2 separate regions of the Homo sapiens genome follow, and region 2 is linked to region 1. The links come from fine-mapping of genetic effects on gene expression. A gene starts in region 1. The other region holds a variant in brackets. All regions are shown on one strand. Distances are from middle to middle.

What was found. PIP is the estimated chance that this variant, and not a neighbour inherited with it, causes the effect. A credible set is the group of variants that fine-mapping cannot tell apart.
Region 2: its variant is the best candidate, but not a certain one, in a credible set for the expression of LAMC3 in whole blood (TOPMed, PIP 0.82).

What each region holds. Positions count from the first base shown.
Region 1 is chr9:131,007,395-131,010,250 of GRCh38, reverse strand. LAMC3 (laminin subunit gamma 3) reads right to left here and starts at 1,077. Exons shown (of 28, transcript NM_006059.4): 1 at 664-1,077. The coding sequence starts at 1,036.
Region 2 is chr9:131,129,060-131,131,966 of GRCh38, reverse strand. It overlaps NUP214 (nucleoporin 214), which reads right to left. Exons shown (of 36, transcript NM_005085.4): 4 at 2,490-2,688; 5 at 1,131-1,201. Among named protein-coding and RNA genes, the nearest start is that of NUP214, 4.9 kb to the right of the region's middle. RefSeq lists a silencer at 130-304. The variant T/C (reference allele first, on the strand shown) is at 1,737.

The DNA.
Region 1 (2,856 bases):
CAGTCTTAAGTGATCCTCCTGCCTCAGCCTCTTGAGTAGCTGGGACCATAGGTGTGCACCACCACGCCCAGCTTTTTTTTTTTTTTTTTTTTTTTTTTGAGACGGAGTTAGCTCTGTTGCCCAGGCTGGAGAACGGTGGTGCGACCTCGGCTCACGGCAACCTCCACCTCCCGGGTTCAAGCGATTCTCCTGCCCCAGCCTCCTGAGTAGCTGGAACTACAGGCACCTACCACCACGCCCGGCCAAATTTTCTATTTTTAGTAGAGACGGGTTTTCACCATGTTGGCCAGGCTGGTCTCGAACTCCTGACCTCAGGTGATCCGCCCGCCTCGGCCTCCCAAAGTGCTGGGATTACAGACGTCAGCCACCGCGCCCGGCCTATTTTTCTTTATTTTTTGTAAAGATGGGATCTCACTACGTTGCCCAGGCTGATCTTGAACTCCTGGGCTCAAGCGACCCTCCCATCTCGGCCTCCCAAAGTGCTGGGATTTCAGGAGTGAGCCACCGCACCCAGCCTAATTCCTATTTCTGAGCCCCTCCATCCAACACCATATCTGGGTCCTGCAGCCCAACCTGGGCGCACAGCAGCTCAGGCCTCAGCCTCAGACCCCCAGTGGAGTGGGGACACGGGGTGCGGTGGCGGTGCCCCCAGCCCGCGCTTACCTAGGCGGAGGGTGATGTTGACCGAGGTGGGGTACTGCACGCCGAAGGCCATGGACGGGCTCTGCCACCAGGTGCTCTCGTCCTGGCTGTGGAAGTCGGTGAGGTAGGAGGCGTTGTGGTGGCGCTGGGGGTCGGCGGCGTCGCAGCGCTGGCAATGAGCCCCCGCGCCCGCGGCGCCCACGTGGGGACAGAAGTCCTCGGGCGGGCTGCCGCACGTGTGCGAGGCCTGGGCGAGCCGCCCAAACGCCGCGTTCTCGAACACCGGCAGGCAGCGCTGCGGGCGCCCTGCGCCGTCATAGCACGCGCCCATGCCCGCGCCGGCCGCCCGCGGTGCCAGCAGCGCCAGCCCCAGCAGAAGCGCAGCCGCCGCCATGGTCAAGGGCACCGACGCCGCGCGCTCTGCCGGCCCCGCTCGGCTAGGGTGGGCGCGGACCGCGCGCTGGCCGCCAGGACCCGCCTTCCCCTGCGGGGCGGGGAGGCTGGAGGGAGGGGCGGGCGGCGGCGGCCCCACCCCACTAAAAATACCAGGGACCGCGCCGTCCCCGGGCGCCCACTCCCACCTGCTGGACGTGCCCGGCAGTGCGCGGCTCGGGAGTCTGCCCCAGAGGCGACCCGGGCCTCTTTGAGCCTCAGTTTCCTCGTCTGTGGAGTGGGGTCGGTAAAGATGCAGGCTCATTCTCGCCATTGGGAGGCTTCAATGGCTGCTCATTAAACAGAAACTGTTCAGCAGTGCCTTGGAGTCCTGAGATAAAAGGGGACAAGAGGATCTATCTCTAACTGATCGCTACCGTTTGCGCATCTCCTCCTAGCAATAAAGTGTGCCCTGGACAGGGTTGTGAGATGGCTCCGCATAGCTCCTGTCGCCCTTAACCCTGAAAAGCACTCCTGCTGCCGGCTGCGCTCTGTCCCCACAGCAAAGAGATTCTAACCTGACATTTGTGACAAGGGTACCTGGTCTTATCACAAATGTCACCTCAGAGAGGGCTTCCTTGTCTTCTGCCCCAACCCCCATAAATGCCCCCTTTACTCCCCATTTATTAACATTAGCAAATCGAGGGAGAGAAGTCATTCGATAAAATTTAGCAGCCAGGTCGTGCGCGGTGGCTCACGCCTGTAATCCTAGCACTTTGGGAGGTGGAGGCGGAAGGATAACTTGAGGCCAGGAGTTCGAGACCAACCTGGGCAAAATAGTGAGACCCTATCTCTACAAAAAAATACAAAAATTAGCCCGGCGTCATGGCACAAGCCTGTAGTCCCAGCTACCTGGGAGGCTGAGGTGGAAGGATCCCTTGAGCCCGGGAGGTTAGGCTGCAGTGGGCTGTGATCATGCCATTGCACTCCAGCCTGGCCAACAGAGTCAGACCCTGTCTCGAAAAAAAAAAAAAAAAAAAGGCAGCCATTCCCAGACGAACTCTAAGGAAAATAGAAATAAATTTCCTGGCCTGGCGCGGTGGCTCTCGCCTATAATCCCAGCATTTTGGGAAGTTGAGGAAGGCAGATCACCTGAGGTCAGGAGTTCGAGACCAGCCTGGCCAACATAGTGAAACCCCGTCTCTACTAAAAACACAAAAATTAGCTGGGTGTGGCGGTGCGTGCCTGTAATCCCAGCTACTCAGGAGGCTGAGGCAGGAGAATTGTTTGAACCCGGGGGGCAGAAGTTGCAGTGAACTGAGATCATGCCATTGCACTCCAGCCTGGGCAACAAGAGAGAAACTCCATCAAAAAAAAAAAAAAGAAAGAAAAGAAAGAAAGAAAATTTTTGGAAGCAAGATGAACTGTAGTGGGCTGATTCACTACCAGTTATTTACACATGATTAAAACAATACGGTTGTGGAAAGGACTACAGAATAGACCCATGGAATAAGTTAGAGATTTCAGAACTATATCTAAGTAGAGTTAGTATATGATATCACCACTGGTACCTAAGGTTATTTTGGAAGTTCTAGCTAATACAATAAGACAAAAAACTTAAAAGATATAAATATTTATATCTTCTACTTACCTGAACATACATCTAGAAAATCTAAAAGATTCTACTAAGACTATTAAAATTAATAAGAGCTCCGTAAGATGGCTGACTACAGGATAGAGTACGAAAACCAATGCCAGCAATAGGCATTTTCTGGCTGGGTGCGGTGGCTCACGCCTGTAATCCCAGCACTTTGGGAGGCTGAGGCAGGCAGATCACCTGAG
Region 2 (2,907 bases), 120 kb before region 1:
CTGTAATCCCAGCACTTTGGAAGGCCAAGGTGGGCACACTGCTTGAGCCCAGGAGTTTGAGACCAGCCTGGGCAACATGGCAAAACCCTATCTCTACAAAAAATACAAAAATTAGCTGTGCATGGTGGCAAGTGCCTGTAGTCTCAGCTACCCGGGAGGCTGAAGTGGAAGGATCACCTGAGCCCAGGAGGCTGAGGCTGCAGTGAACCATTACGTTATCACACCATTGCACCCCAGCCTGGGCAACAGAGCAAGACCATCTCTCAAAAAAAAATAATAATAAATAAATAAAAAATTAAGGCAAACAGCAAAGCAAGAAAATTTAAAAAATTGCATTATCTTTTTACAGGTTAGTGTCCTAAAAGATTATGTACCAAATTTCAGGTAACTTTTGGTAATAACAAATAAGAAACATAACCTTAACCTTAAACCTATACCACCTACATTCACCACTCTGCTCCCCTCCTCGCCAGAGAACAGTCTTGAGGAGGAAGGCACAAGAAAGGCCTTAGCACCACCTGTGAATCCCTCCTTCGTGTCCAGGCTCAATAGACATATGGGGGTTCCTTGCAACTCAATTGATATTGAAGGATATTTGTGAACATTATTTCAAGAAATTCACAGGGAGGATGACAGAGTGCACATGCAACAAGAGTATCCATTTTCTTTGGTGCCCATAGTTAGACAAACAGACCTTTAAAGACAGACTCAGTTAAAAGACAAATACTGTGCTTTAACCCAGAGTGATTCTGCATTATCATCATAGTTTTTTCACTAACTCTTTTCCCTTGAGCTGTTTTTATGGAATGGACTGAAAAAGGTGGGGAACAGCGCATAGCGTATGATCACATTTTACATAAAAACAACAACAAAAAAAAAGCAGCTACCCATAGACTATTTGTATAACATCCAGAAAAGTATGGAAGGCTATCTACTCAACACAACATAGTGGGTGCCTCTGGAAGAAGGACTATGGGAAAGGGAAGAGTTCCACTCTTCATTCACTGATGGATTTGTTACAATGAGTATAAATTACTTTTTAATAGGAAAAACAAGAAAGATACTCCCAAACCACCCCCAAAAAAGTGGGCAACTTAAGAAAAATTCTGAAGTTCAAGATAAGAACTTACAGGAAGATACTGGACCACAGTTCCATTCTGTTTTCCCACTGCCAGCTGCTTTCCTTTGGGGCTCCAGCACACTGAGCAAAGACAGTATTACCAAATGAAAACAAGAAAATGGAGCAAACCAATAAGATCTATCACACACAGCTAATTATCAATTCTCATTCCTCTGTCAGTCCATGGAAGATTGTAGGATCATCTCTATCAGGCAAAGTGGAAAAAAGTAAAATCATTTTAACGATATAAGCCAATTGATTTATCACTGGGCTATTGAATTGAAAGCTAAAAATGCTTTTTCAATAGATTACTGCCCAGAAAGCTGCAAAATACAGAAAACTCTGTAGTCTTTACATAAGACAAGGAGAACAGAGAAGGTTTCCAAATACCAAGAAATCACTGGCCGGGCACAGTGGCTCATGCCTGTAATCCCAGCACTTTGGGAGGATGAGACGGACGGATCACTTGAGGTCAGAAGTTCAAGACCAGCCTGGCCAACATGGTGAAACCCCGTCTCTACTAAAATATACAAAAATTAGCTGGGCATGGTGGCAGGCACCTGTAATCCCAACTACTCTGGAGTCTGAGGCAAGAGAATTGCTTGAACCCAGCAGG[T/C]GGAGGTTGCAGTGAGCTGAGATCGCGCCACTGCACTCCAGCCTGGGCGACAGAGCAAGACTCTGTCTCAAAAAAAAAACAAAAAAAAAAAAACAAAACCAGAAATCATTCTCCTGCTCCCATTTAATATTTAAAATGCTTTTCCGCCCAAAGGTACAAATGACTTTCAGAGTACCACCGTTACAGATCCAGAAACAATTATTCCCAAAAAACACTTCTAAACCAGCTGTACCAAAATATTTCTCCAGAAATCCCAAGTACATTCAGGTTAAATTATGTATGCTGTTTGGCTTCAAGGACATTAACTATGGGTATAAAGAATACTCTCAGCCGGGCACAGTGCCTCACACCTGTAATCCTAGCATATGCGGGGTGGAGGAGGGCAGATCACTTGAGGTCAGGAGTTCAAGACCAGCCTGGCCAACATGGTGAAACCTTGTCTCTACAAAAAATACAAAAATTAGCTGGGCATGGTGGCGCATGTCTATAATCCCAGCTATTTGGGTGGCCGAGGCACGAGAATTGCTTGAACCCAGGAGGTGGAGGTTGCAGTGGCTGAGATGATGCCACTGTACTCCAGCCTGGGCGACACAGTGAGACTGTCTCAAAAAAGAATACCTTCCATCCTTAACCTCCCTCGTCATGAAAAAAAAAACCAAAACACAAAAAGCTATCCACTTTCACTTCTAGAAATCAATTCTTAAGTAGATGACCATGATTGTATGCTACAGTGTGAAAGCCTTTATTACTCACCAGAGGTTACTGCTACCGTGGAAGGAAGAGTTGCACATACTTTCACTGTTTCCGTGACTTGCAGGACAGCAATACTACCATCAGCCAGACAAACTGCCACCATGGAGGGGACAGTGGGGTTCCACTTCATATCAATCACCATGCCTCCTGCATCTTTCAAAAGCTTATGATAGGCAAATGGGCGTTTTTGCTGTTTAGCCTTTTAAAACAAATATGCAAAAGTGAAATAAGTTAACAAATAGTAAATGCAGAAACATTTAATATTCAATGGAAATTACTGAATACACAAGGTATCTCAAATCAGTTTATTTTTCTCCATAACCATAAAAAAAGATTGTTTTATGCATCAATCTATTTGCTATAGACAATTTCAACACAACTTTGAAAATGGCAATCAATTATTCTAACATGCTTAGGG